Regions from separate parts of the Homo sapiens genome. Here all the other regions are linked to region 1. Evidence: fine-mapped expression QTL. A gene starts in region 1. Each other region holds a variant in brackets. All regions are shown on one strand. Distances are between the middles of the regions.

Region 1 (6,216 bases):
AAACTTGAAATAATGTTTTGTAAGAAAAAATAAATTAGGAAAAAAATTTAAGTATAAAGATAGTTAAGAGCATAGATTCTGGAGCCAAATTTCTTGGGTTTAAGTCCCAGCTCCACTACTCATTAGCAGTGTAATCTCAGGCAAGTCTCTGTGACTTGGTGTCTAAAATGAGGATAACAATAGCACTGATTTCACTAAGTTATTATGAAGATTCAGTGGATTATTATATGTTAAGTGCTTAACCCAATGCCTGGCACAATGTAAATACTATATGTAAGTGATATCTATTATTTTTATCTCAGTGTTATTTATAATAGCAAAATCTTTCTGACTATAGAAGAATGCTTAAGTACACTATGGTACACTTACAGTGGAATTTTTTTTTTTTTTTTTTTTTTTGAGATAGAGTCTCCCGCTGCGGCCCATGCTAGAGTGCAATGGCACGCTCTTGGCTCACTGCAACCTCTGCCTCCCGGGTTCAAGCGTTTCTCCTGCTCAGCCTCCCAAGTAGCTGGGATTACAGGCAGCCACCACCATGCCCAGCTGGTTTTTGTATTTTTAGTACAGATGGGGTTTCACCATGTTAGCCAGGCTGGTCTTGAACTTCTAGTCTCAGGTAATCCACCCACCTCCGCCTCCCAAAGTGCTGAGATTACAGGCGTGAGCCACTGCACCCGGCCACTTACAATGGAATATTGTACAGAATATTAAAAATTAGGCTTTAAAAGAATATTTAATTACATATAATGTAAAGTAAAAAGCACAGGAAGCAAGCCTGGGGAACATTGCAAGACCCTGTCTCTACAAAAAAAATAATTAACCAGGGGTAGTGGTGTGCACCTATAGTTGCAACTTCTCAGGAGGCTAAAGTAAGAGGTGAGAGGATCCCTTGAGCCCAGGAGTTTGAGGCTGCAGTGAGCAATTATCATGCCACTGCACTGCAGCCTGGGTGACAGAGAAAGACCCTGACTCAAAAATAAAAAAGAAAAGAAAACAACAACAACAACAACAAACAGTAAATGAATTGTGTATATTGTTCCATACCACTTATGTTGGCTAAAAGAGCACTTTTTACAAATATAGATGCCTAGGAAACAACTGGTAGGAATTACATCAAAATATTAACAAAGAATACAACTGGGTGTAGACTGGGGGGTTCTTTATACTTTACTGTATTTTCCAAAGTCTCTACAGCAGTGTTTCTCACACTTTAATAGGTAAACAAATCACCCAGTATGCTCGTTAAAATGCAGCTTCTGGGTTAGTAGGTGTGGGATTTTCAGATTCTGCATTTCTGATAGGTTCTCCTGTGATGCTGATGATATTGGCCCAAGGTCTACATTTTGAGTAGGAAGGTTTTAAAGCAGCATATCTGAACCAATATACTGGTTAACTGAGACCCACCCTCAGAGTTTCTGATTTCTTAAGTCTGGAGTAGGATCCTAGGATTTGCATTTCTAACTGTTTCCCAGGTGATGCTGACACTGCAGGTCTGGGGCCAGCACTCTGACAACCGGTGCTCTAGAATCTTTCTTTTTCTTAACATTAAGGAAGGGAGGGCACTAAAAAATATGTCAGGCTTCTCCATTGACTCCAAAATCAAATCCAAACTCTTCATCCAAAAGCCCCCATAATCCAACCCCGTCATTTCCCACTACTTCTCATTAGGCTATAAAATCAAACCACTATGCCCTAAACACACCTGAGATTTCAAACATCAGGACTTCCGCTGGATTTCCTCACTCCGGCTATGCCACTTCCTTCTACTTCTTCATGCCAAATCCTACCCAGCCTTCAAGGTCCTCAAATGCTATTTCCTCCATAAAGCCTCCTGATCTACCACTACTCAAAAAGCTACCTCTCCCTCCCCCCCTCAGGGCTGCACAGCACTTTTCGTTCCTCCCCAATGACAGGCACCATCTGTACCTGGTCCAGCGACTCTACCGGTGGGTGGTGTATCTTCGCCTGTAGACTGGGAGTTTCTTGAGGTCAGGGGAGTGACTTGCCTATCTTTGCCTCTTAGCCTTAGCAGATCCCCAGTAGACAGCTGACACTCAGAACCGACCAAAAGAAGGAAGGAATGGGACCTCCTGAGGAAGGGCACAGAACTGTCCTGTAAATGGAAACTAGACCGGACGCACGCCAAGCCGATGACCCACAGTAACAGGTGTTCTCCATCTCTGATGTCTGTGATTCATCCTGCACAGCTGCGCGCACACAGCACACGCATACACAGGCTCCCAGAATACGGCGCCCCACACGCTGTACCGCCCGTCGCGTTCTGGACGCCCCGGCGACCACACACACCGAGACACACCTCAGCGACAACCTGGATCCACAAAAAGGAGGCCCTGCCCCCTTAAAAAATACTAACACCTTACTGCAAAGAACTAGCAGCTACGGCTTGCGCCTGCGCCCCTTGTTCCCTGCCGCACCTTTTCTTGTAGTTAAGAAATCTATTTCTGCACGCATTTCGTCGCCGCCGCCCCCCATCCCTACACGCACGCACACACACACACACACACGCACACACACACACTCCCCTTCCCCTACACCTACCCCCCTCCCCCCACCTCCTTTCAGACTAGGCGCGCCTCGCAGAGCGGGATTGAATGGGAAAGAGCGGGGCCGTCTTTGTCATTAATCCTCCCCTCCTTCGGGCAAGCCAAGCTTCTTCCGGGTCAGCGACCATCCCCGCCACCCCACTCGGGGCCACGGTCCCCCCGCAGCGCTAGTCCCGGGCCCGCGAGCACCGGCCCCCGCCACCCGCAGGTTGCGGAGGGAGGAGGGCGGGAGCGGGCGGCGCGGAGCCGGGAGGCGGGGGAGGGGCCGGCGTCCGAGGCGGCGGCGGCGGCGGCTGGAGCAGCCTCTGGCAGCAGCGGGGAGAATGGGAGTGCGGGGCGCCAGACCGCCGCGGGGTGTCACGGCCGCCACGAAGCCTGCGAGGCGCGGGGCCGGCGCCCGCGGCTTTTAAACCCGGGAAGGCGCGGCGGCGGCGGCGGCGGCGGGCAGATCGCGGCGCGCACCAGGCGCCGGGGCGGCGGCCGAATGGAGAGAAAGGGCTCGGCGGCCGGGGCCAAGGGGAACCCGAGCCCGCCCGCGGCCGGAGAGGGGCAGCGGCCACCGCCGCCGCTGTGCGTCCCGGGCGGCGGCGGAGGAGCCCCAGCGAGGGGCCAGGTCGGGGCGGCGGCCGAGCCGGCCGAGCTCATCCGACGAGCGCACGAGTTCAAAAGCCAAGGGGCGCAGTGCTACAAGGACAAGAAATTCCGTGAAGCCATAGGCAAATACCACCGGGCGTTGCTGGAGCTGAAGGGGCTGCTGCCGCCCCCCGGGGAACGGGAGCGGGACTCGCGCCCGGCCTCCCCGGCTGGGGCCCTGAAGCCCGGCCGCCTCTCGGAGGAGCAGAGCAAGACGGTGGAAGCCATCGAGATCGACTGTTACAACAGCCTGGCAGGTGAGCCGCGCCGCGCCCCCCGCGCCGCGGTCCCCGTTCTTCGGCCCGGTCCCTCCGCGGACCACTGCGGCGCTCCCGCGGTGCAGATTCTCCTGCTGTGACTGTGTTGCTCTGGGGAGAACCCGGGAGGGAGGCGCTTTGGAAAAAGTGTGACTTTCAGGATTATGCCTTTCAAAGGCCATAATCATCTCTTGTCCCTTCGCTAGCATACATCGTAAATCTCACCTAGAAATGACTGGAAGGGGACCCAGCTGGCCTGGCTATGGCTGCTGCTGCTACTGCTCACCAGTGGACCTGGGTCCAAAATGCGGAAGCAGCGCCCGGGGTGGGCCCCCGCAGCCACCGCTAGCCCAGCTTTTTCCTGCGGGTGGGTCCCAAGGGAGGCCACGCACCTGTCTGCTCTCCTTAGGTAGCATGAGCACCAGGATTGGTCCTCGCCTTTTCCCCAACTAACCGCATCCCTGTAGGTAAGATCTTCCCCAAGTTTTTTGGCCCCAGTAGCAAAGGGGAGTTTGACACCATGCCTTCAGCATCTTGAGCAAAATGGATTCCAGAATGCCACTTTCTTCTCTCTGAGCTCTGCTGGGGCTCCCGGTTGCCAGGTGAAGATCTCTATCTCAAAAGAAGCTTGGTTCATGGTTGGGCTTGAACTATGCTGCATTCTCCCTCTCCTCCCTGCCCGTTTCTCACTATGTGTAGCATCAGTCCTCACGCCAGCTGGCTGCTAGGGGTGAAGGAAAAGGGGGCCCTACTCTTGGGCAAAGAAGGTGTACATTCCAACATTCCCTTTGGGGATAAGAGCCAAAATCAGGGATTTAAAAATTGTTTAATTTAGGCGCAGGAATATTTAAAGTCTCTTAAAAAAAGAAGAGTCTGGCTCTTGCTAGGGCCTTCCTGGGAGAAGGTGGGAGAGGTTGGCAAAGGCAACTTAAAAAGCATTCTCTCCTCTTCTCTTGCCCCATTTGGTGAGATTCTGGCATGGTCAACCTTCTCCGACCAAACAAAGGGCAGTTCCTCCTAGTTCCTGACATGTGAGGTTGCCTAAACTGTCTATGGACAGTTAGAGCAGGGTAGGGGTGGAAGAGTGACTGGGTGTGGCAGGGAATGGTGAATGTGTCTGAAGCCGAGGCAGTGGTGGGGGAGTAAAAATAAATACTGGCAATTCTGCTCGGTTCTTAAATGCAGATCTCTCTGTTCCCTCTGAGGTTTCTAGTACCAGCCTACCTCTGTCTTCCCAGAATGCCATGCCCAGTCTCATCTTTGATCGGGTAAAACCCAGGCTACGGAGGCACTTTGTAAATTGTAAAGTACTTTACAGACTTAAAGGATTAATAGAGTAGTAGTAGCAGCAGTTGGAGGAGTGGTGGTGCTAATAGCAATACTAGCAGTAATAGTAGCAGATAAAATTGTAGTACAGCAAAAATGGACTCTTTCAATCCATTATAAGATACAGCTTGAGTCCTTTAGTTCCTGTAAGTCTTTGGCATACTGTCTGCTGCCCCATGAATAGTTAAAGGGCAGAGCAGCCATGGGTGGAGGACGAGGCACTGTGGATTGCTAATGCGGTGACTTTGGAGTGGTAATGGAATCTTATATTTAGTCAGTATTATCCATGGACATTCTAGGGCTGCCAACCAGTGGCTAGCACTGCCTGCCCTCCACCCCAGACGTGGTTACTTTTCCATGGTGAAATCAAAGATGTGTCCTTGGTCAGGCCAGCCCAGTCAGGGCGGGACTGAAATCTGGATAGCTCCACCACTCCCATCCTCACCTCACACACTGGAAAACTTCAACGGTGAGAGAATGGAAAGTAGCAATAGCAGATATTCCCCCTCTGCTGCCTTCTCCAGTGCTCACCACTTATATTAATAATTAATTGTGTGTGCTGTTAGGCATCCTCCATACATTGTCTCTTTAAATCTTTATAATCTATGTAAAAGAAATATGATCATCAGTTTTGCAGAGAAAAAGCTCAAGGCTCCGGAGCCATTCTTCTCCAAAGGCAATGTTCTTGTCATCATACTTTGATGCACAAAGTCAGCATCCTCTGGGCCTCTGTCTCACTTGAGCCCAATTTCAGGTGGGCTCCAAAGCCTTGCACTTTGGAAATTCCTTTGGGAGATCTCAGGCCTGGTAACCAGGAGAAAGAAATAGAATACTTTGATTCAAGGCTCTAACGGGCTATTTCCAAATGTCAAGTCTCACAAAAGAACGAAAAGAGTGATTATAAGCAAAGCAATTTTGTCAAAGCCAAAATTCAGCTAGGAGGATGGTTCAACTTAAAAGTCACTCTGGGGCTGGGTGCGGTGGCTCACTTCTGTAATCCCAGCACTTTGGGAGGCCGAGGCGGGCGGATCACGAGGTCAGGAGATCGAGACCATCCTGGCTAACACGGTGAAACCCCGTCTCTACTAAAAATACAAAAAATTAGCCGGGTGTGGTGGCGGGCACCTGTAGTCCCAGTTACTGGGGAGGCTGAGGCAGGAGAATGGCATAAACCCGGGAGGCGGAGCTTGCAGTGAGCCGAGATCGTGCCACTGTACTCCAGCCTGGGCGACAGAACGAGACTCTGTCTCAAAAAATAAAAAATAAAAAATAAAAAAGTCACTCTGGGGAGAAGTGGAAGCCTTATGTTTGTTTCCTTCAGGGCTATGTATAAAATCAGTGATGACTATTTCAGAAGTCCCAGCTAATAGGAAAGTATCCTTTCTTGTCAGATTACAAAATAATCAATGCCTCTAATATGTATTTTCTTTTGTAAA
Region 2 (6,216 bases), 29 kb after region 1:
CTTCTACCACCTTGGGGACTATGACAAAGCACTCTACTACCTGAAAGAAGCAAGGACCCAACAACCAACAGGTAAGGCGGAAATAGCTGTTTTCTTACTTCCTCCCTGCTCTGGTGGCTCCTGGGACCTTCTCATTTCAGCAGTTTTCTTGGCTAGGAGGGCCAGGCAGGGACAGAGATGGCAAAATTAGGGATCAGATATATATGATAAGACCTAAGAGGAGCACACAGCCCATGCATTTGCCTAGGGTTTGAGTTCCAGGGAGCACAGGCCCCTCTTCTCTTCAAATAGAGTATAGAATTCCTCATCTTTTTCAACTCAGAATCCAGCTCTCTTCACTTATTCAACAAATATATATATATTGAATTCATACTATGTGCCAAGATTTGTGCTAAGCACCAAGGGAATCAATGAAAAGACACTGCCGCTACCCATGAGGCGCTCACATCTGGTTGATGACACAGAATACAAACAGGCAAATTTGATGCTAAGCCCAGCACCTTTCAGGAAGCATGCTCTGACTTCTCCAGTCAGATGCTATTCCTTAGGACATGTGTTATCTATAGCATTCACTTAGATCATATCCACCAGTCATTCATTCATTCATTCCACAGATATTTATTGAGGGGGTACAATATTGCTAGGTATATAGTAGTGAACAAAAGAAAGTTGTTGCCTTCAAAGAGCTTATATTATAATGGCTCACTGTCTATTGTAAGTGGGAAAAAAAAGTGTGGAGAGGGGACAGAACCCAGGGAGGGGCTCTCTACCAAGGGATGGCTAGAAGTCAACCAGTAAACAAGCAAACAAATAGTAAACAAATGAAATACTTAGTAGTAATAAACGCTGTGAAGAAAATAAAGCAGAATAAAGAGATCAAGAGTAAATGGGGGCGCTGGGCGTGGTGGCTCATGCCTGTAATTCCAGCACTTTGGGAACCCAAGGCAGGTGGATCGCTTGAGCTCAGAAGTTCAAGACCAGTCTGAGCAACATGGTGAAACCCCATCTCTACTAAAAATACAAAAATTAGCTGGGTGTGGTGGTGGACACCTGTAATCCCAACTACTTGGGAGGCTGAGGCAGAAGGATCACCTGAACCTGGAAGGCGGAGGCTACAGTGAGCCAAGATGGCACCACTGCACTCCAGCCTGAGCGACAGAACAAGACCTTGTCTAAAAAAAAAAAAAAAAAAGGAGTAAGGCTGGGCGCGGTGGCTCATGCCTGTAATCCCAGCACTTTGGGAGGCCGAGGTGGGTGGATCAGGAGGTCAAGAGATCAAGACCATCCTGGCTAACATGGTGAAACCCCGTCTCTACTAAAAATACAAAAAATTATCTGGGCATGGTGGCACGCACTTGTAGTCCCAGCTACTCAGGAGGCTGAGGCAGAAGAATCACTTGAACCCAGGAGGCGGAGGTTGCAGTGAGCCAAGATTGCGCCACTGCACTCCAGCCTGGGTGACAGAGCGAGACTGTCTCAAAAAAAATAAAAAAGAGTAAAGAGGGGGGAGCTATTTTAGACCAAGTGATCAGAAAGAGCCTCTCTGAGGAAGTAACATTTAAACAACTTTGACTTGATGTTGCTATTTTTGTTGTTTATATGGTTAATAATTTTTCTTTTTTCAGACAGAGTCTCGCTCTGTCGCCCAGGCTGGAGTGCAGTGGTGTGATCTCAGCTCACTACGACTTCCGCCTCTTGGGCTCAAATGATCCTCCCACCTCAGCGTCCCCAGTAGCTTGGACTACAGGCATGCACTACCATGCCTGGCTAATGTTTTTTATTTTTTGTATAGATGAAGTCTTGCTATGTTGCCAGGGCTGGTCTTGAACTCCTGGGCTCAAGCAATCCTTCTGCCTCGGCCTCCTAAAGTGCTGGGATTACAGGCATGAGCCACCACACCCAGCCTTTTTTTTTTTTTTTTAAACTCAATCTTCCTTTCAAAAGTCTTTAAAAAACTTTAGAATCAAGTCACAAATGTCCAAATGTATACTTTTTTTATCTTTTTAAAGAACACCTTGTTGTTGATTTATTTTCCGTACATAAATCGTGTTCCACCAACTGTAAGCAGCTTGAAGACTAACCATTGGACTCATTCAATAGAATTTTCTGGAGCACTGCTATCTGCCAGCACGGTTCTGGAGGATACGCCTGGCATTTTTTAGCATGATATAGTATTCATTTCTACTTCCAGAAGTAACTATTCCAGGCAGCCCTGTCACTCTTATGTTATGGTGTGTGTGGAACTTAGCAGTTGTTCCCTGCCATGCCATCCTCACTAATAACAGGAACTGGGAAGAAATGCCCCAGTTTTGGTGAGGTGGTCATCTGACCCTGCTTATAACGACAAAAATAAGACAATAAAGCAAAGTCATTTTAAACTCTTCAAGCTTAAAAAAATTACATTAGACTAATATTTGTTGATCATTGTTTTAAGCACTTTTAGACTTACCTATTTTGGGCTTCAGAGCAATTTCATGAGGCAGGTATTACAGTCCTCAGGAGAGACAGGCTTTGCAGCCAGACACACCATTTACTATGTGTCTCCTTGGCATC[T/C]GACTCAATCTCGCTAGGTCCCTATTCCATTTTGTCACAGTGAGGAGAAGGATACATACCTTGCGGGATTGTATTGAGGATTAAATGAGATCATGAAGGTTAGAAACCTGGCACAAGGTTGGCATTCAAAAATGGAGCTTGTTGGCTGGGCGCGGTGGCTCACTCACGCCTCTGATCCCAGCACTTTGGGAGGCCAAGGTGGGCAGATCACCTAAAGTCAGGAGTTTGAAACGAGCCTGGCCAATATGATGAAACCCCGTCTCTACTAAAAATACAAGAATTAGCTGGGCGCAGTGGGATGTGTCTGTAATCCCAGCTACTGAGGCAGGAGAATTGCTTGAACTTGAGAGGTGGAGTTTGCAGCAAACCAAGATTGCACCACTACACTCCAGCCTGGGCGAACAGGACAAGGCTCCATCTCAAAAAACAAACAAACAAAAAAAAATAGAGGTTGTTTCTTGCAGATGGTACAGGAGGCTCAGAGAAGTTGGCAACTTGCCTGATGTTAAACTCCAACTGGGGTCTCACTAAACTAACTGCGCCGGCTGGGAAACCACTGGGATACGCTGCTGCATAGAAAGAGGGAGAGAAATTCTCTCTCCTCTCCCACCCATTCTCTCTCACATCCCCTGGGTCATGCCAACCTGTCCACATTTGCTAAGGGGAGACAGTGAAGGAGAGGGTCGACATCTAGTTGCCCTCTCAGCCACCATGGATAGGCAGAAGGGACCTTGGTTGAGTGAGCCTGGCCTGTTGGATGTCTGCAGACACAGCCTTTGCTAATTCCTTGTAAATGTGATAGTTGCCCTCACCTGGTGTTCCCTAAGGTTTATTTCTCTCCTCACAGACACCAACGTGATTCGGTATATCCAGCTGACGGAGATGAAACTCAGCCGATGCTCCCAGAGAGAAAAAGAAGCCATGTAACCAGGAAGCAGCTCCAGAGCTGCGCCCACGCCTGACCGGGGACTTCCAGGCATCCCCTGGCAGAGAGCCCCGTCCTGGATTCTGTCCCTTTCTCCCCACTTCTTCTGGCTCCTCATTTTTCCTCCTGTTGCACCCCAGCTCTTTGTCTCCTCCCAGTACGAAAAGGAGAGATGCAAATTTGGAATCTGGTAGGTCGCCCAGACAATGGAGACATCCTCTCCTCTAGCAGGTCAGCGACTGAGAGGGGCCTGACTTCTGCTGGGACAGCTGGAGAGGAGTCTCATGGGCTGGGATGCTGTTGTGGCTTTGACTTTGGCCAGTGCTTCTGACAGAGGCGGAGCCTGGCAAGTGTACCATCCCACAGGCAGCAGGCACACAGCCCATGGGCTGGATCCTTCCACACTTTCCTGACAGACCAGAACCAGAGCATCTCGAGGCAACTGTTAGAAATCCAGGGACGAGACAAACAGAGAAGCGCTGGTGAAGCCAACATAGAGACTGTCAATGTGTACACTGGAGTTCCCACCCCCACCCCCCACCCGTCACTTAGCCCCTGCCTCCTTCCCCCACTCGTTGTCTTGGCTTGTGCTTTCTCCTCTCCCCATCGGGGATCCGAGACTCTGCCAGGATTCACATGCCACTGAAGCCCACTCAGTGCCCTCTGGTGACCACACATACCATTCCCCCGGACTCCCACCCAGCAGGCAGCTGTGACCGCAGAAGGGCAGGATGAAGTGGGCCAAGGTTTGGGACAGGTTGACTGTGTAGGTGACAGGGAGGGAAAGATGATGGCCAGGGGAAAGAGCATCGTATAGGCTAGGGGATTGAACTGTGGACTGATTCAGTGTAAATAAAAACAAATTAACAGGTAGTAGTTCCTGTCAGTTCTGTTGGAAGCAGCCCACTCCCTCACTTTTACTCCTTCCTCCAACCCTCAATCAGAGCTACTTACAGCCAGGCAGGATGGGGCTTTCCCCAAAGCAATTGGCCGTTTGTCCAGTGGCAGACAATGGTGGCTACAGCCTTTGTGCTTTTAAGAGTGGGCTGGGATTGTGGAGACTGCCCAGGGGCTTGGCTTTGTCAGAACTTGTACAATCTTCTTTTGATGAAATTATCTGAACTCAACATCTAGCACATAGAATGTGTTCAACAAATGCTTGTTGAATGAATAAATTATGACTGCAGACTGGCTCTCCTGCCTTAAACTAATTTCATCCCAGCCTAGTCTCCTGATGTCTGTGCTCGTTATGCTATGCCATGTTGCTTCAGTCAAACAAGAAACACTTACTGAGGGCATATTGTTTGCCCATCATTGTGCAATATGCTGTGGGACATGGGATGTCGTCTCAGTCTTCAAGGAAATGGAAGGGTTAAGAAATGCATATGAGATTATTACCAATGACACCGTTAATTTATATGATGCTTTAAAATTATCAGAGCACTTTCATGTATTTTTCGTGTGACTAGTGAAAAAGACAATGTTGTACAAAATTAAAATATATACAGATGCAATAATGTGAATAGTTAGGATTTATTAAATGCATTATCTTCAGATCTTTACATGTATAATCTCATTTCTTTCATGCAGTTACTCTGGGATACTGTTCCCATTTGATGGGTAAGAATATTGAAAACCAGAAAAATTAATTATCCCAAGGTTGCATGGCCTTTAGTGGCATAGCTAGGATTTGAACCAGGCCTGCCTGACTCCAGAGCTCTGGCTAGTATCTATGCTATACTTAGTTGCCTCTCTGTAAGTATAATATTGGGCAATTATAACCATTTGAGAACAGGACAATATGTATTAACCTGAAAAGTGTTCATGATGTCAGTGATAGTACATGGCCTCCTTATGTATTTACTCAAGGGCCCCAAAAGACCAGAGGCCAGAATCCCTAGTAGTCAGAGCAGTGACAGGTCAGAAAAAGGCAGCTGAGGTCCAATAGTTATGTCTGTGTATTGCTCATTCTACTTACTGATGGAGCCAGCATGTATCTCAACAACTCACCTAGCATTCATCACCCATCCCCAGCATTGGGAAAGGGTCACAATTAAGACCGAAAGGAAACACAAAGTTAAATATGGGTTAATTATGTAAGCAGATGCCCCACCACGGCAGGATCCAATCACAGCCGAGGGGCCCAGAAGAGAGCAGCGTAAGTTATATTCACATAGTTCCCCAAAGGCTTTCAACGGGGGCTACAGGAAGGTGCTAGAAATATTGAGGGGCCTGCCATTACTCACCTAGAGCTCACTCTCTGGAGAAGAGGAAAAGGAAGAAGCTATTTCAGCTGCCACATTCTCCCCAATCCCTACTATATTATGCTGTCTTTCCTCTTCCTCCTAGCTGGCTTTACATGACCCTAACCCAAAACTACCCTATGGCCCCACACGGGAATGTGTTCAAACGCCCCGACCCCCACCCCCACCCCCATTCCCAAGCCTCCAACTTAGAACGTTTGTGATTTGGCAGATGGTTTGTTAGGATCTGAAGGATGAAGAGAAGGGTAGAGGTCACCTGGAGAATGAGTTCAAACTGCCAGGGTCTTCCCTTGGTCTTTGTGCGTCAGGAAGGACTCCGAGTAATTATTCCCTATGCAGAGACAGGAGAGAGGTCTTGTTTACATGAGTGTGCTGGGGCAGGGCTGGACAATCCAGGATATGATTGTAGCCATCCCATGTAGAAAGATCAAAAACCAGAACGAAATGAAGACAGCCTCTCAGAACCTCATAGAA
Region 3 (6,216 bases), 430 kb before region 1:
CCTAAGGACTGGTTTTTGGAGCAGATTATTGTATTTGGTATGTAGCTTCATTGCCATCTCCCTCTCTGCTTTGTCAAAACCAACTTTCTCGAAGGAGCTGTCCTTCATGAATCCATGGCTCGATTTCCCCTGAACCCTTAACTGGAAGTTTGGCACCTGCTTCAACCAATTGACTAAGTTCATCAAAGGGACTAAGCTACTTTAAACTACATGGTTATAGCTACTTTTTATTCCTCATCTGACTTGGTCATGACGTTATTCACGGAAAGGACTCTCTCTTTGCCTTCAATAACCCATGCTCTTAGCTCTACTTTTCTTCTCTATCCAACTCTTTTAGACATCTTTGTGGGCTCCCCTCTTTCGGTCTATATTTTTTATAGCTATTTTCTTTTTTTTCTTTTTTTTTCTTTTTTTTTTTTTTTGAGACGTAGTCTCGCTCTGTTGCCCAGGCTGGAGTGCAGTGGCGTGATCTTGGCTCACTGTAAGCTCTGCCTCCCGGGTTCACGCCATTCTCTTGCCTCAGCCTCCCGAGTAGCTGGGACTACAGGCACCCGCCACCACACCTGGCTAATTTTTTGTATTTTTAGTAGAGACAGGGTTTCACTGTGTTAGCCAGGATGGTCTCGATCTCCTGACCTCGTGATCTGCCCGTCTCGGCCTCCCAAAGTGCTGGGATTACAGGCGTGAGCTGCCGCACCCGGCCTTTATACCTATTTTCTCTAGAGTTCTGCCCTTGGCCTTCTTTTCTCCTCACTTTACACACTCCCTGGGTGTTCTGGCCTGTTCCCGTGGCTCAAAAACCACCTAGATGCTGAAAGGTCTCAAATCTGTGTCTCCAGTCAGCCTTCCCTCCTGAGCTTCCCATGCATATCTCCAGCTGCCTCTGAGATTTCTCCTTCAAATATCATGCCAGCTCCCCAGGTTCATCAGTGCTCCATGCCCTCCAAACATGTTTCCTCTCATATTTCCCAAGTCAGTGCTGCCATCTTTCTAGTTCCTCAAGCCAGACACCTGGATGTCATGCCGGACTCCTCCTTCTCCCTCATCCTTTATCCAATCAGTAAACAAGGCCTATCTGTTCTACCATGGAAATAATTTCTCTGGAGTGGCTCACAGTCTTCCAACAAAATCTTTCTAAACATGTGTCATAATTATATAAAAAGTAAAAGGATGTGTTGCTGGATGTTAGATGAGGATGCCTATATGTTTTTAAGAAGGTCACTAAATGTCAAGTTTAACCTATGACTAGAAAAGAATACGTATGTCAGAATCTAGGGAAAGAAGGCAAAGAGGATGCTGTAACACTGCAAGCAGGGCATTCTTCTTATTCCATGACAATCATTGTCTATCCACTGTTGGCAAAAACAGGCTACAGGGGCAGCCCTTTCTACCTTTCTGAAGTATCCCATAGACATTTCATTTAGGGAGGCACACTTGGGTTAGAAGAACACAGCAGGAAGAGGGGCTTCAAAGGCATAAAATTCAGGGCTCCTCTTCAAGAGAAATGCTCTCTTCCACAGAAGATGAGCAAAGATCTTCCATCCCTTTGAATGTCCTCATGGTCATGGTGCACTGAGAGGGTGGGGAGAGGGTAGGATAGCCAAACTGAGACAGAAACCTGGATAAATAGGAAACGTAATCACCAAGAATAGAATGACAAATCTCTCCATTGGTCTAAAATGGAGGTAAACTGCTTCCTGATCTTGTATGATTTGACTTAGAAAATATATAACAATTATTTGACATTTACGTAGCATTTTACAATTTTAAATTATGTTCATAGATATCATCTCCTTAGAAACTAATAATAATCCTCAAAGGTAGACATTCTTTCATTTGACAGATAAGGAAACAAAGGCTCATAAACTATTAAGCAATTTACTTAAGAGTACATGGTTAGTGGAGTGTTGGGATCAGAACCCCTGGCTCTGACTTCCAGCTCAGGATTGTTTCTTCCATTGTACACTCCTTTCTGCAGAGGAGTCTTGCAGTCTTTGGTAGTCTTTATTTGCTCAAAAAAAAAAAAAAAAAAAAGCATTCCCATTGGTAAGAGGTTTCAATGCAGAACTGCAAGAGAATAAAATATTGTCATAGTGCCATGTTAAGTGCCTGGGATGCATAAAACTCCACAGAAGTTTCTGCAGCTGCAAGGATGCCATTGAGGTCTTCTCCCATCACTGCCCTTGGACACTAGTAATGGTCTCTGAGGTTCAGAGGCTAGGTCCAGATCAGAAAGAATATGTTTGTGTCATGAAAAAGAACACAAAGGAAACACTCAGAAAAAGGCTGGGGCTCTAGAGGGATTCCCCAGAGGAGAAGATGAAAGAAATGAACTAGACAAAAACAAAAGAAAGTGAGGTTAAGGACAGGGATATGTTGTTCAGTAGTGATGACACATCATGGTGATGAGAGAGGGAGATGAAAGGTAAGTGCATCTCCAACACCAGACTTAGAGAGGTGGTAAAGCTGCTACAAAATCCCCTTCATAAGTGAGGTGGGGTGGGGGATGATTTATTCATTCATTCATTGATTACAGAATTTTCTTTTTGAAAGCCAATTATGCAGGCAACCTCAGAGACATTACAGGTTTAATTCAAGATCACAACAATGATCAGAACAAAGAGAGTTGCACAAATTTTTTTTGTTTCCCAGTGCATGTAAAAGGTATGTGTGCACTGTACTGTAGTCTATTAAGTGCAAAATACCATTATGTCTTTTTAAAAGTACATATCTTAATTAAAAATACTTCATTGCTAAAAAATGTTAACAATCACCTGAGCCTTCAGCAAGTTGTAATCTTTTTCACTGGTGGAGGGTCTTGACTCAATGTTTATGGCTGCTGACTGATCACAGGGGTGGCTGCTGAAGGCTGGGGTAGTAGAGGCAATTTCAGAAAATAAGACAACAATAAAGTTTGCCACATCAATTGACTCGCCTCATGAAAGATTTCTCTGTAGTATACAATGCTGTTTGATAGCATTTGCTTTGCAAAACAAAAATGTATTGAATTTATATTATATGTATTATATATGTATATATTATATATGTGTATTATATATAATATATGTGGATATATTATATATATGTGTGTATACATATATATGTATATATATGCATGAGGTTTGGACATGTGTGTGTGTGTGTGTGTGTGTGTGTGTGTGTGTGT[A/G]TATGTATATACCTAGAGAAGAGAGAAAGTGAGATATTTTAATGACAGGAAAACTTTTTTCAAAATTGAATTCAATCCTCTCAAACTGTGTCACTGCTTTACCAACTAAGTTAATGTACTATTCTAAATCCTTTGTTGTCATCTCAACAGTGTTGATAGCATCTATACCAGGAGTTGATTCCATCTCAAGAACCACTTTCTTTGCTCCTCCATAAAAAGCAACTTCTCATCCATTCAAGTTTGATCATGAGGTTACAACAATTCAGTCACATCTTCAGGCTTCATTTCGAATTCTAGTTCTCTTGCTATTTCCACCATATGTGCAGTTACTTTCTCCACTGAAGTCTTGAACTCCTCAAAATCATCCATGAGGGTTAGACTCAACTTCTTCCAAACTCCTGTTAATATTGATATTTTGACCTCTTCCCATAAATCATGAATGTTCTTAATGGCATCTAGAATGGTGAATCCTTTCCAGAAGGCTTTCAACTGATGTTGCCCAGATCTGTCAGAGGAATCACTATCTGTGGCAACTATAGCTTTATGAAATTTATTTCTCAAAGAATAAAACTTGAAATTTGAAATTACTCCTTGATTTATGGGCCGAAAATGGAAGTTGCACTCACAAGCATGAAAACAGCATTAATCTCCCTGTACATCTCCATCGGAGCTCTTGGATGATAAGGTGCATTGTCAATGAGTAGTAATATTTTGAAAGAAATCTTTTTTCCTGAGCAGTAGGTCTCAATAGTGGGCTTAAAATCTTCAGTAAACTGGCCAGGTGTGGTGGCTCACACCTGTAATCCCAGCACTTTGGGATGCCGAGGCAGGCAGATCACCTGAGGTTGGGAGTTCAAGACCAGCATGATCAACATGGAGAAACCCCGTCTGTACTAAAAATACAAAATTAGCCAGGCATGATGGCACAAGCCTGTAATCCCAGATACTCCGGAGGCTGAGGCAGGAGAATCGCTTGAACCCAGGAAGGTGGAGCTGCGGTGAGCCCAGATCATACTACTGCACTCCAGCCTGGGCAACAAGAGCGAAACTCCATCTAAAAAAAAAAAAAACTTCAGTAAACTACAATATAAACAGATGTGCTGTCATCCAGGCTTTCACTGGCAGAGCAGATTTAGCATGATTCTTAAGGGCACTAAGATTTTTTGAATGGTAAATGAGCATTGGCTTCAACTTAAGTCACCAGCTGCATTAGCCCCTAACAAGACAGTCAGCCTATCTTTTGAAGCTTTGAAGCCAGGCATTGACTTCTCCTCTCTAGCTGTGAAAGTCCTAGGTGGTAAGGCTATTTCATCTACATTGAAAATCTGTTGTTTAGTGTAGCTACCTTCATCAATAATTTTAGCTAGATCTTCTGGGTAACTTGCTGCAGCTTCTCCATCAGCACTTGCTGCTTCACCTTATACATTTTGTTAGGAAGATGGTTTCTTCCCTTAAGCCTCATGAACCAACCTCTGTTAGCTTTCAACTTTTCTCTGCAGCTCCCTCATCTCTCTCAGGCTTCCCAGAATTAAAGAGAATTAGGGCTTTGCTCTGTAACAGGCTTTGGCTTAAATAAATTTTGTGGTTGGTTTGATCTTCTATCTGGACCACTAAAACCTTTCCATATCAGCCATAATGATGTTTTATTGTGTTCACTGGAGTAGCAATTTTAATTTCCTTTAAGAACTTTTCCTTTGCATTTGCAACTTGCTAACTCTTTGAAACAAGAGGCCTAGAATCTCAGGTTTTAACATGCCTTCCTCACTTGGCTTAATCATTTCTAGCTTTTAACTTAAAGTGAGAGATGTGCAGCTCATCATTTCACTTGAACACTTAGGCCATTGTAGAGTTACTATATGGCCTAATTTCAATATTGTTGTGTGTCAGGAAATAGGGATGCCCAAAGAGAGGGACAGAGATGGGAAAATGGCTGCTCAGTGGAGCAGTCAGAACACATACAAAAATTTATCAATTGGGTTTGCCATCTTACATATATGCAATTTGTGGCACCCCAAAATAATTACAATAGTAACATCAAAGATCACTGATCACAAATCACTATAACAGATAAAATAATAATGAAAAAGTTTGGAATATTGCAAGCATTACCAAAATGTGACACAAAGACACAAACATGAGCACAGGCTGCTGAAAAAATGATGCAACGGCCATGCACAGTGGCTCATGCCTATAATCCCAGCATTTTGGGAGGCTGAGGCAGGAGGATTGCTTGAGCCCTGGAGCTTGAGACTAGCTTAGGCAACACAGTGAGAACTTGTCTCTACAAAAAATAAAAATAAAAAAGTTAGCCAGGTGTGGTGGTGCACAACTGTAGTCTCAGCTGCTCAGGAGGCTGAGGTGGGAGGATCACTTAAGCCCAGGAGGTTGAGGCTGCAGTGAGCTATGATAGTGTCACTGTGCTCCAGAACTGGGTGACCGAGTGAGACCCTGTGTCAAAAAAAAAATGATGCCAATAGACTTGCTTAATGCATGGTTGCCAGAAAGCTTTAATTTGTAAAAAACATAAACCTACAAAACGTGATAAAATGAAGTGTGATAAAACAAAGTATGTCTGTATATGGCAGTGTTCTAGTTGCCCAGATACATAAGTAAATAAGAGAAAATTCCCACTGCATCATGCTTCTAGTATAATGGAGGAGAGGGATAATAAACAAGTAAAGTAGGGTATATTTTTATAAAACTTCAGATAAAAATCAGTGATATGAAGAAAACTCAAGCTGGGTATTAGAGAGTGACTGCGGTGGGATATGTTTTGGTGGCAATTTAGATTGAATTTTAGGGAAGCTACTATGTACTATGTGGCCCCCAAATTCATATGTTGAAGCCTTAATCTGCAATGTGATGGTATTTGGAGGTATGGCCTTTAGGGGGTGATGAGGTTTAAAGGAAAACATGCAGGCAGAGCCTCCATGATGGCATTAGTGCCCTTGTAAGGGGATGAAGAGGCTGAGCAATTTCTCTCTCTTCTCCCCATTTGAGGATACAGCAAGAAGGCATTCCACAGAAAACCAGGAAGACGGCCCTCACCA
Region 4 (6,216 bases), 57 kb after region 1:
TGCCCATCAGGCTTCCAGGCCCAAATAAGTCCCCTCATCAAGGAAACTGTGTACCCCTCAGGCAGGCTTGCTCCAAAGATGCAGTCAAGCCAGGCAAAGACCAAGGAAAAGAGGGTCAAAGATCTCTCTGGGCAAATCCATTAGTGACAGCTGATCCCTTGGAGCCACTTGAAGTCTGCAGCTCCTGAAGCTCTGTTTATTAACTCTGTTTATTTCTCCAATTTGTCAAGTACTGTCTGCAAGCTCCAGCTTCCCTCATAAGTGCTCAGCTTCTATTCTGCCTCGCAGGCTTCACCAATTTGATTAGCATACTCTGCACTCCATCTTTCAAGTCGTTAATGAAAATACTGATGAATACTGGGAGTTATTCAGGTCCCTGGGAGGCCTCTCCTCCATCCCTTCATCTTTTTGCCTGGCAAGTAAACTGGAAGGGATGAATCCTCTTTTCAGATAGTCTTTGCCCACTGTTCAAGAGCTTTTGTCTAATCTTTTCATTCATTCATTTATTCAATCACTCATTTATTCATTTGCTAGGGCTAGAGGCTTAGCACAGTCCCTGGCACATGGAAAATGCTAAACAAATGCAAGCTCTTAGTGTTATGAGGTGCTGTGGAGAAACAGAGATGCACAGGATAGACCCCAGCCCTGAGCAGTAAGAATGGGAATAAGAATTACAGCTGCCAATTTTGAAATACTTGCCAGATACTGGGCTACGTACCGTCCAGACAATATCCAGCCCAGGCCAGGTATCATCCACCCTACAGAGGCATTTGTTGGTAATGATTAAAAGGGAGGATTCTGGCCAGGCGTGGTGGCTCACGCCTCTAATTCCAGCACTTTGGGAAGCCGAGGTGGGCAGATCACTTGAGGTCAGGAGTTTGAGACCAGCCTGGCCAAATGGTGAAACCCCATCTCTACAAAAATTAGCCAGGCATGGTGGCGGGTGCCTGTAGTCCCAGCTACTCGGGAGGCTGAGGCAGGAGAATTGCTTGAACCTGGGAGGCAGAGGTTGCAGTGAGCTGAGGTAGTGCCACTGCACTCCAGCCTGGGCAATAGAGTGAGACTCAGTTAAAAAAAAAAAAAAAAGTGAGGATTCTAAAGTCAAAATTCTTATTCTAGCTTTCCACTGACTGGCTTCTTTGCCTTAGATTCTCCCTCCGTACAGTAAGGGTACTATTAGTTATTTCATAGGGTTACTGTGAGGATTTAAATTATTAAATAATACAGAATTGGTACTTGGAGCACTGCCCAGCATATAATATGCACTGAACAAATGCTGGCAATTATTATTATTATTTGATGTAATACAATTACCCTTTATGAGGTAAGTGTTATTATCAGTGTTTTACCAACAAGAAAGCTGAAGTTTAGGAAGCCTGAGTAATTTGCCTAAAGTCCTACAACCAAATAATGGAACTCGGGTCCAAACCCAAATCTGATTCCAAATTCCATTTGCTTTATTACTGTATGCTAGAAAGGAAGAAAACATGCATACATACATACATAATTATTTTTACAAGACAGAAAAGCAAATGAGACTGTAGAGCACAGAATATTTTCATGGCGCATAGTAGATTCTCAATGAATCCAGCCAAATAATGATGATGTTGATGATGTCAGTAATGATGATGACAAAATTCTAAAGTGCCATACTGAAGTTTTAAAAAATTGTTTTAAGATGTCACAGGACAGAGAGAGATCATTTATGAAGAGAGGAATAGTTGGAGACTTTCCTGGAAAAGGTGGCATTTGCAAAGGCCTTAAAGGATGACCATGAGTTGGACACAAGGAGAGAAGAGAAAAAGGCACCCGGGTAGAGGAAACTGCAGGAGCAAAGGCTTACAGACATGAATGCTTAGGGTGTGTGTGAAAAGAAAGAGCAAGAAGTTCCACTGGACAGTACGTGTTATATGAAAGAAAATAGTTGGGACTGAGCTGGAAAGGAAGGAGACACACCCTTATTGACACATGAGGCCTTGCCCAAAAGACTGGTCAAAGCAGAGAGATTTCTCACACTTCAGAGTCTTCTGAAACTCACATTGGAGAAACAGCCATATGAGGGATTTGGAGATGAGGAATGGGGTTTCTTCAATATTCAGGCAAGAGTAAGTACCACAATGCTTATGCAATAAAGCTTCAGTTTGAGGTGAGGGTCAGTTTGAGGTGAGGGCTAGGCAGGGCTGACATTCAGCCAACACATGTGTATCAATATAGGTTGTTGAAAATATTAAACTGCTTTTCCTCCAGGCTGGTAAATGGCACTACCCTGAACCACCCAAGGCCCCTTCCCCTGGACTCCAGGACCTCCTCGACATCCTTGCATAAAAACATTAATTTCTGGCATTATTTTGATAATCACCCCTGGAGCTAGGGGACTTGGCTTGAGGATACTTTTGCATAGCATTTTACTTAACATTGAAAAACACAACAGTTTTATCAATAAATGGGTTGCAGAATGTAAAAGCAAACAGACCAACCGCTACACTCTGGCCTCAGATATTCCTCAAGCTAGATCCTTCTGGGGAACTAACTCTTTTCCTGCTGAGTCACTGTGGCTGCAGCCCTGCCCTTCCATGTGACTGTGTCAT[T/C]TGGCATTATGGTTCCTCCTGAGCCCAAGGGAACTACAAAGGTCTGTATCAGGACACTGGGCATTGCCACTGTGCTAGGTGCACACACCTGACTGATCGTCTTGTGGGCTCCCGCATTTCCTGTTGCTCCAGGCATCAGATATATCCCTGGGATCCCTCCATTAGCTTGGCAATGCTATGGAAGTTGCCAGAAAAAGAATCCTAAGGAATTGGTTCTTGGCAAATCCTAAGGAATTTGGCTCAGGCATTTGTCTTCCTAATGAACTGGTGGGGAGGTAGCTGTGTTGGTACATCATCTCCAAGGCAGGATCCTGCCCTCTGAAGCTTGAGGTGAGAGCGGGGACATGGGGGGTGGTGGGGAAGCTTGGGACCTGCTCTTCCCTCTGCCATGAATTTTCTCTTTCTGCCCAAAGCAATGGCTTCTCTTAGCCCTGCATTTCAATTTGATTGCTCTCAGTCCCCACGGTCACCTTCCCCCACCCACAGCTCTTCACAAAAGACAGCCAAGAACAGGGAGGAAGGGATCCTGAGGCAGAGTCCCTTTGAGCCCAATTGAGGCTGGGGTCCCCGGGCAAATCTGCACCCTGTGCAACTCCTGGGACTGCAGATGTGAGTGATGCCCCAGGATGAACGGTGCCCCAAAAGCCTTGAGCGGGGGAACCCTGTGTGCCATCTGCCACTTCTCCCTTGGGAAGATAGCCCCACCACTGAGCCAGGGAGCACCAGGAGGAGGTCCTGGATCTCTAACATCTGTCATCCTGCTGGGTAATGATACTGTGTCTTTCATAAAAGTCAGAACTAGCCTGGGCAACATGGAGAAACCTCATCTCTACAAAAAAAAAAAAAAAGCTGGGCATGGCAGTCATGTACCTATCAGTGCCAACTACTTAGGAGGCTGAGGTGTGAGGATCGTTTGAGCCAGGAGGCAGAGACTGCAGTGAGCTATGATGACACCACTGCACTCCAGTCTAGGAGACAGAGTGAGTCCCTGTCAAAAAAATAAAAATTAAAAAGAAAAGCTTTCCATCCCTCCCTTTTAGAGAAAGCAAAGAAGACACATAGAAGACGGTAATTCACACACCTACAGGTGTGGCTGTGGTCACAGGCTTTGCCCAGGGACCTTTCCTGGGAGGGGAAAGAAAAGCCTATGAATTGCATTGAGGACCAGAACAAGGGCACAGGATATGGAGGGAGGTGACAACGAAATGGTTTTTATTGGCAATCAGTGCTTCACACACTGCGGTCCCTCCTACCAGTCCGCTAGCAGGTTCCTAGGGAAGCAACACGTCTTCTATTTGGCCATGCACACACCCCCACACCCCTCTACAGCAGGGTGCACTTTCTGTTCTCCTGCATGGCTGGCTTGATGCTCACCCTGCAGCCCAGTGACAGGAGGAATGACATCACGCCTGCCTGTGCAGAACCTACCTTCCATTCCCTATCTCAACTGTGCTCTTCTTCTCCACAGTGGCTCCCAAAGTCTCAAGCCCACTGTGCTGATTTGAGCATTTGGCTCAGCCTTTTCTGGTCATCACCAACGTTCACCTGGCCATGCTGATGGCAGCACGCATGGATCTGGCCATTCCCACAGCCTGGTCACCCCATGGTGGCCCTTGATTGAGCTTGCCATGGCACGGAAGGGGGCCTCTCCTACTCACCGATCTCCTTATTGAGGTACAGCACATTCATTTGTATTCATATGGTAGTAATACCTAATTTTTATAAAACTCCTCAAGTGCCAGGCACTGTCCAAAGTATTTACATACATTACTCATTTAATCCTCACAATCACATGATATATACTGTTAGCCCCAATTTACAGATTGAGGAAACTTGCCCATGGAGACTTTTGTTAACATATTCAAAGTTGCATGTAAGGAACAGGGCCCAGATTTCAACCCAAGCTACTAAGTTCCCAAGTGCATGTGTGTTCCAAAACATCATGCCATGAGGCTGCTGAAGATACACATGACTGGTATCCAAATCCTTCCTAGGAATAGGCAGTGATGCTATGGGTGGAGAAGCATGGAGGAGGCAGATCCTGGAAAGAGGGTGAGCAAAGGGCACAGAAAGGGGACACTGGGAGTCAGAAGCCAAAGGGGAACTTGGACTTCCCTCCGTTCTCCAAGGCCTGGCTCTCTTTGAAGATAGTGTGGGATGAGAGAGAGAACAGAATACTAAAGAACAGAATGAGAGCAGGTGAGCAGTGGGCCCAGAGGAGAGGAATGCACACAGGCTGAAGGGAGAGAAGAGACAAAATGGACATAGCACGTCTCACAAGCCAATGGGAGGAGCTGGGAACCCAGCATTAGCTGGAAGGTGCTCACCTTCCCTCTTGATGGTTGACTCAGTGCCGACACAGACTTTAGCTGTCAGCCTGAAAGCAATCAGCTCATCATTGCAGCCTCTTTATTGTCTAAATTTTTCTGAAAGCATGAGAAGCCACTGGCCTTTCAACAGGGCTACCGAGGACCTGGGGAAGAGAAGGGCAGGGAAGCAGAGACAGAGGCCAAACACAAGTGCTTCTGCCAGCAGGGTTCAGAGCACATCTGGCAACCCCAGCTCCCAGCCCTGAAGCAGGCACCAGGCTACAAGGACAGACATAGACCAGGGACAAGGAAAAGGAAGGGCCAGCCCCAAAGCCCTTGGGATGCCTTGTCAACAGGCCAGTGTCCTTTGGAAAACACTCCAAAGGAAACAACAAATGTGAGACAAAGGATTTCCTTCCTCTTCCCTCATGTCGGAAATTCCCTGAGTTTCTTTCCTGGACCACTTGTCTGTCTCTATAACAATCCTACACACTGGTCAAAGTTTTTAAGGCCAAAAGTTTTAAAGGAAATGGAAAGAGAAGTAAGATTGAAAAGATGTGTCAGAGTCTGTTGCTGTCACTGTGGGAGCTCACTCTTTCTTGTCACAGTGAACAAAGCTGAGGAAACCAAGATTTTTCCATGCATTTGCTGGGGTTGGGACCCATGGCCTAGAACTAGGGGTCAGCGGAAAACAGAGCATGCCCATTAGACAAAGGGGTTAGCGAGAAGGAAGATAGAAGCAGATGCCAATGGGGCAGGGAGCTGTAGGGAAAAGAGGGGGAAGAGGGAGGGATGGGGGGAAAAGGAGGAAGAAGTGGAGGAGGAGGGGATGAGGAGGAGAAGGAGGAACAAGAGGAAGAGGGGAAAGGAGGAAGAGGAGGGGGGTGAGAAGAAAGAGGAAGGAGGAGGAAGAGGAGGAGGAGGAAGAGGAGGAGGAGGAAGAGGAGGAGGAAGGGGAGGAGGAGGAAGGGGAGGAGGAGGAAGGGGAGGAAGAGGGGATGCACATGGAGAAGAGAAATCACCACTGCCTTGTCTGCCTTCACTTCTCCCTGCCTCTGGCATCCTCTACCTGCTGTCAGTCAAGTTCTTGCCACTGGCACTTAACTTGTCTTCCCTTTATGGACCTCAGCCATCCACCCCTCCAGGTCCTTCCTGCCTCTCACCTGGACCAGTCTGTGGCTTCCAATAATAGTCTTCTTAGCTTCAGTTTCTCCCATCTCCAGCTCATTCCTCTCACCACTCCAGGTTTAGCTTCCTAAAATATTATTTTCACGACATTATTCTCTATTATTTTTCATAACTCCCTCTTTAACTTCCAT
Region 5 (6,216 bases), 21 kb after region 1:
AAATTTTCTCCAATTCATGTACACATTGCTGGGCAAACCATATTTGATAAGTGACTTTCTAAAGAACTAGTATTTATGAGAATCCATTTTTGTCCCAGCACTGTGAGAAGCATGTAATGTGCATTAATTATCTCATTTCATCATCATAAGCGTTCCCCCAAAGTTCCTATTTAACATGGGAAGAATAAGACCCAGGGTGATCATATAACTCGCCCTCGGGCCTGTGCTAGTGAGTGGCAGAGCTCAGATTCCAGCTCAAGACTGCATCTCTAGACCCAGCATTAGTCTTCAGCCAGGGCACCCAGAGCTGGTACAATACTGTTTGCCTATTTGGTTTGGTTATGATCTATACCAGTCATTCAATATTCTTAATATCAGCTCTGTCCAGATCCCAAACTTCTTCCACTTTACTACTATGTCATTGCTTCTTGAAATAAATTTGAAAGCAAATCAAATAATTTGGCAAACTTTTGGGAAAATTTTCCCCTAGGAACCCAATGGCCATTTCCTGGGCCCATCTCACAAAGCAGTGACTAGCAAGGTATATTAGTTTCCTAAGGCTGCTGTAATATCACACACTGGGTGACTTAAAATAACAGAAATTCATTGTCTTGTCATTCTAGAGGCTAGAAGTGAAACATCAAGGTGTCGGCAGGGTTGGTTCCCTCTGAGGGCTGTGAGGAAGAATCTGTTCCAAGCCTCTCTCCTAACTTCTGGTAGCCCCAGGCACTCACTGGCTTTGTAGATAGCCGTCTTCCTAGATCTTATTGCATCATCTTTCCACTCTGTATCTGTCTCTGTGTCCAAATTTCTCCTTTTTATAAGGACACTAGTCAAATTGGATTAGGGCCCATTCTAACTATTTCATTTTAACTTGATCATCTCTGCAAAGACCCTGTCTCCAAATAAAGTGACATTCTTAGGTACTGAGGGTGAGGACTGTAACGTATCCTGTACAAATGGATACGGTGCAACCCCAAACAGTGAGGCAGCCTTGTAGAGTAGGTTCTTCCTTCTCGCTGCTGGCCCCAGATGGGTCTGGTCTTCCTTCCATTTAGCCCATGTTTCCCTTCTGTTCAGCAGGTAAAAGCAAACTATAGTGAGTTAGCTATAAGAAGAAAACCAGTGATTGCATGAACTTGTTCTTCCTTTCATCTGGTTTCCCTTTATCTCATGCCAGTGGGTGGCGTTTTGCCCTGCATGCACCAGGAAACACAAAAACAAAACAGGTGCCAGAGTGAGGAGAACTCAACATGCTTTAGCCTGAGGTCTCAGCGTGGTTGCTGGGGGGAACATCACACTTAGGATTTTCCGTCTGTGTGCATGAGTGTCGCGGGGGCTCTTTGAGTAGCTGATTCTCTATTTGCTAAACACGACCCCTCTGTGGGCCTCAGAAGGCCTGCCAATTCTTTTCGTAAGATCACACCCTAACCGCCTAAGGCTGGCAGTGGAGGAATCTGTACTTGGGAGGGGTGGTTGGAGATTTGCAGCTTCAATTCTTGTCCCCCAGATTTGCCTTTCTCTTGTAAGTTCACTGGCCACCTCTGCTATCACCCTGTTTGGCTCAAGGAAGGCTGTTTCTCCTCTAGCACTTCTTCCCACGCCTTGATAGAGGCTTGTCTTCATTCTCCACAATTTGGCTGATTCCAGGCCACTGCATTTATTCAGCCTTTTCAGAAGACCCAAAGGCCAGAAAGTTAATAATATTTCTTTCAATGGAGCCTCTAGATATGGTTGTCTGAGAGCTCAGGCCCTTTGCCATGCATCTTCCACCCTGTACCTCTTCTGCTGCCAAGTGACTACATCTTTGAATCCAAGTATATCCACAGAGTCCAGGCCAGGCTCCCTTGCCAGTCAGTCCAAAACCTACCTTTCCAACTCAACAGCCTCCTCTGCTCATGATGACTAATGGTGGAGATGTTTACTCCCTTCAGGGAAGGTCTCACCCCAGTGCCATGACTTGGGAAGACCCACATCAGAACATAATCCAATCTCTATGCCAAAAAAAAAAAAAAAAAAAATCCACACAGCAGGAATCTAATTGTTGTCTTACAGAAGCCCTCTTGATCACTGCTTTACCAGTCTGATTGTCCTCCCCAACAAAAGATACCTGACCTTGATTAATAGGGAGAAAGGAAATCCTTTTGAAGAGGAGCCAGTGAAACAATTTTGTCCTTCTATTAAGTGGCAAACATTTGTATTTAGAGGCTGTTAGATCTGAAAGGACGGTAGAGATCATTTAGTGAAATTTAGATCTCTCATTTTGCAGATGCCCAGAAAGGGAAAGTAATTTTCATAATGTTGGCTAGTGGCAAAGATGGGACTAGAATCCAGCTCTTATGATTCCTAGTTCAGTGCTCTTTAAAATACCGATGCATGCCAAATGGCAGAGTATAGAGACTGTGACATGATAATCCTTAATTCAAACAGAGACCAGGTCACCACAACATGGAGAAACACTTCTCGACAATCAGGAAATCCAAAATGACAATAAAGATCTCCCAGATGAACGGCTCTACCTTGCAAATGTGGACAGCAGAGAGAAAATATTGCAGAAATTCCCTGCTGCTGGTCACCTCTGCCTCCTGGATGCCACTTACATTGATCTGTTTTTCCTGCTTATCCGCCTCCACTCTGGTCACCTGAGTCACCATCACTTCATCATCCAAATCCACTCTTGCCTCACAATGAAGTCCCAGATCTTCTACGTGGACCAGAAGGGTCTCTGTGTCATGGTTTCTTTCTTTTCCAGCTTCACCTTTTTTACCCTTCCCTCTGGTTCTCTGCTCCAACCTGGCATGCATGGCTTCCCAAACTTTCTGAAATAGGCCATTCCCCTCTCGCTCCCTCTCTTTCTTGGCTCTGCCTTGAAAAGTCACAGTTTCACCCAGATCAGTGATTCCCAAACATGGGTGATTTTACCACCACCCCACCACCCAGGGAATACTTGGCCATTTCCAGAGACATTTTTTGGTTGTCACAAGTGGCATGTAGTGAGAAGAGGCTAGGGGAGCTGCTAAGCATCCTGCAAGGCTCAAGACATCCTCATGTAACAAAAAATCATCTAGTCCAAAATGTCAATAGTGCTGAGGCTGAGAAATACCCAATCTTTAGATCCCAGCTATAATGCTACTTCTTCCAAGAAGGCCTCCCATTATACTTTAGATCAAGGTAAGGCCCCTCCTGCCTGGGTATGCTCCTTCTCTACCTTTGTCCTTCATAGCAGTTAGCCCACATGTGAATATTTGAGATAACATGACCTCTGCCCTCCCTGCCCATCTGTTAGCCCCAGGTGGGTGGGGGGGCGGGTGTCAGCTCATCAGCTGATCCCACTGCCCCGCCCAGTGCCCAGCAGTTAGGCATCAATTTTTGCTTGTTAGCTTTGGAACACAGCAGAAGGGAGTTTCCACAGATGACCTCTCTTTCTCCCCAGGGGCTGTGTGGGTTTCCGATGGCTTCAAATGCATCCCCACAGACACCCCAGAGGTCAAGTGCACAGTCTTGGAAGCCTGACAGAAGTGGGCTGATATCCTAATTCTACCC[C/T]CTTCCAGCTGGGTGACCTTCAGCAAGTTACTTCATTTCTCTGGAACTCAGTTTCATCATCTATAAAAGAAGGATAAAAATAGAACCTGTTTCATGGAGTTGATGTGAGGATTAAAAGACATAGTGTATGTGAAGTATTTAGCACCTCTGACACCAGAGAAGGGATTAATAACCATGAGGAGGACACACTGTGGGGCGATGCCACTTATCCTGAGGTCCACTGCAACCCCAGGTCCTGGCTAATGGCTACAGGGATGGGGAAGGAGCAATCAGGAGGCAGCCAGTCCACGTCGTCTTAACTTCCTCAGCCCTCACACGTGCCTGCTGTCATCCCATCTTACCTATCCCATGGGCTTACTAGATGTACCAGTAGCCACCCACCCAAAGCAGAGAGGTGCCTAAAAATCACCTGCAGGTAGCGCTGAGGCCAGCCTCCAGCCTGGCTGTCACCCCCTCCACCCCTGGATTCCCTTAAGAGTCCTGGCCTGGGCCGGGTGTAGTGGCTCACTCCTGTAATCCCAGCACTTTGGGAGGCTGAGGCAGGCAGATCACCAGAGGTCAGGAGTTCGAGACCAGCCTGACCAATATGGTGAAACCCCGTCTCTATTAAAACTACAAAAATTAGCTAGGCATGGTGGCGGGCATCTGTAGTAGTCCCAGCTACTTGGGAGGCTGAGACGGGAGAATTGCTTGAACCCAGGAGGCAGAGGTTGCAGTGAGCCGAGATCGCACCACTGCACTCCAGCCTAGGCAATAGAGCGTGACTCCATTTAAAAAAAAAAAAAAAAAGAGTCCTGGCCTAGCACCCCAACTTCTTATCCAGATTCTACCTCTTGGCCCAGCTATTTCTCCATCTTTCTGGGCCCTGTCTGTGGTGTCAGCTGAGGCTCCACACCCTATAACCAGCCTAGCCCTGCCTCCCTTGCCTCCCCCAAAGTCTGAACCCTGGTCCACAGCCAGGTATGCCAGTTCCCACCGGATCTGCAGGGGAACTAGAAATATTTTTACCAAATAAGTGCCAGAAATTGATTGCTGTGGTTCCTTTAACCCTTTGTGGGAAGGGGGAGGCTTCCCCATTTCCAGGCCTCTTTGCTTCCCCTGCCCCTGTCACCACCATTTTATGCATTCAAAAACTGTTATTTTATTTTATTTTTATTTTTATTTGTTAAATGGTCCTTTTCCTAGACTGCCAGGGTCAGCAAACAGAAGTGTCTGTTCAAAGAGGGAGGGCTGGACGGGAAGAGGGCTGCTAGGCCCGGTCAGAGAGGACTTCAGGCAGGGAGCGTGGAAGCTGTGGACAGGACAGCTTTTAGCTCTGGGAGCAGGTGCTGGAGCCAAGTCACACACAGGTAGCAGTCAGTGAGGTTCACATCCAGGAACCTTTTTACAGAAACCCCTCTCTCTCTCTGTACAGCTGTATAAGCACCAGCACAGGCTCCGACAACATGCAGGTGAGGAAGGGGACAGAAGGGCCTAAGATCCCACCATGGAGAGAGAGGGAGGAGAGGGGAGGGGGGCTTGTAGCATCAGCTTATCAGAAGGACCCCCTGGTGCACCAGAAGATTGTAGTCCTGGGTGAACAAGAGCTGCCCTCGGGGGTTAGCAGCCTGTTGCTTCTGTTGACTTGGCTTTCTGCCCTGCAGCCAGTGAAACCTGACAGGTCAGTTTCTAGATCTGGGCTGATTCTCTTTCACTTCCTGGTTCTCATACCTTCATCTTGACAGTCTGTGTATTTCTCCTCATTCTGTGAAAGAATGGAGTTTTTTGGTCCTAAATGCTCAAAAAAAATCTGGTCTCTTAAAAAATCTCAGCAATTCTGATACCTGGGAAGTTATTTAAGGGGTCAGAATGACTGACGTTAGACCCCTGAAGATTGAAATCAGTGACTTGTCTCTATCCTGAGGTGTCTTCTGTCAGTGTGGAAAAGTCTGGGCACAAAGAAGGAACAGAGCATCAGCATTCTCCCCCAGCCACCCAGCCGGGTTGTGAACAGAAGCACCAGTTTTGCCTCCTAAGTCTCTGTTTTTATTTGCTTTGAAGAAGCAGACAGGTGCCTTTTTCCTGTCTCTTTTTTTGTACTCCCTCCGAAGTATGCAACATACTTTGCCGTTGGTCAATGCCTACTAGATATTTGAGTGGTTAAATGGAGGCGAGGTGGCTCAGCAGGGTTGGGATTAGAGGGAGGTGCCTAGGGCACGAAATTTCAATCATTCTTCAAGGCCATTTAGTCATCCTCCAGGCGTGTCATCACTCTAGTCCCAGCCCTGTGGCTCCCTGTGGCTCAGGGCTGGTAAGGGAAAGCTCAAAGGGACATGGTTTACTCAAAGATGGCTGTTTGTGGGATGGGGAAGCTCTCCACCATGAGACCTGCCTGCCATAGCTTCCTCTTGCCTGGGACACCTAGGTCTCTCATGTCCAGACATGTGGCTTGTATGAGCTGGTCACTAGCCTACCAGAAAGCCCCCTCTCTCAGGAACTGCAGAGACAAATATACATGAAAGGGAACTTGAGGGAAGTCAGAGGCAGATGTTACTGGTACAAGACTAAAAAGAATTCTAAGAATGTTAACTAACATTTTTTTCATGCTTGCTATGTGCCAAGCCCACATTAAGTACTTTATGGCCATTATTTTATATAATCCCTCCAACAACTAGATTAGGAAGGACTTGGATT

Which allele goes with the higher level. Positions count from the first base shown, and alleles are read on the strand shown. Sizes are in standard deviations (SD) of each study's normalised expression. Not every link is listed here.
As copies of G replace A in region 3, the expression in neural progenitor cells of the gene that starts at base 2,835 in region 1 goes up (large effect, 1.7 SD a copy in Aygun 2021).

The links. PIP is the estimated chance that this variant, and not a neighbour inherited with it, causes the effect.
Region 2: its variant is fine-mapped to the expression of TTC9 in lung (TOPMed, PIP 0.98).
Region 3: its variant is fine-mapped to the expression of TTC9 in neural progenitor cells (Aygun 2021, PIP 0.91).
Region 4: its variant is fine-mapped to the expression of TTC9 in monocytes (TOPMed, PIP above 0.99). The same link has a PIP of 0.9 or more in aorta and whole blood.
Region 5: its variant is fine-mapped to the expression of TTC9 in pancreas (GTEx, PIP above 0.99).

What each region holds. Positions count from the first base shown.
Region 1 is chr14:70,639,082-70,645,297 of GRCh38, forward strand. TTC9 (tetratricopeptide repeat domain 9) reads left to right here and starts at 2,835. Exons shown (of 3, transcript NM_015351.2): 1 at 2,835-3,454. The coding sequence starts at 3,049. It overlaps TTC9-DT (TTC9 divergent transcript), which reads right to left and starts at 2,217. Exons shown (of 3, transcript NR_110071.1): 1 at 1,927-2,217. RefSeq lists enhancers at 1,730-1,909, 2,010-2,269 and silencers at 2,740-2,889, 3,110-3,299, 3,320-3,389.
Region 2 is chr14:70,667,676-70,673,891 of GRCh38, forward strand. It overlaps TTC9 (tetratricopeptide repeat domain 9), which reads left to right. Exons shown (of 3, transcript NM_015351.2): 2 at 1-71; 3 at 3,401-6,216. The coding sequence ends at 3,480. Among named protein-coding and RNA genes, the nearest start is that of LINC01269, 28 kb to the right of the region's middle. The variant T/C (reference allele first, on the strand shown) is at 2,554.
Region 3 is chr14:70,206,174-70,212,389 of GRCh38, forward strand. LOC107984686 (a long non-coding RNA gene) reads right to left here. Exons shown (of 3, transcript XR_001750796.1): 3 at 2,043-2,067. It also overlaps the pseudogene LOC646548. Among named protein-coding and RNA genes, the nearest start is that of SLC8A3, 20 kb to the left of the region's middle. The variant A/G (reference allele first, on the strand shown) is at 3,167.
Region 4 is chr14:70,695,939-70,702,154 of GRCh38, forward strand. It overlaps LINC01269 (long intergenic non-protein coding RNA 1269), which reads left to right and starts at 2,760. Exons shown (of 4, transcript NR_125769.1): 1 at 2,760-2,918; 2 at 4,057-4,262. RefSeq lists enhancers at 1,870-3,069, 2,476-2,977, 2,978-3,477. The variant T/C (reference allele first, on the strand shown) is at 2,589.
Region 5 is chr14:70,660,413-70,666,628 of GRCh38, forward strand. All of the region lies in intron 1 of TTC9 (tetratricopeptide repeat domain 9), which reads left to right. Among named protein-coding and RNA genes, the nearest start is that of TTC9, 22 kb to the left of the region's middle. RefSeq lists enhancers at 5,314-5,473, 5,971-6,216. The variant C/T (reference allele first, on the strand shown) is at 3,544.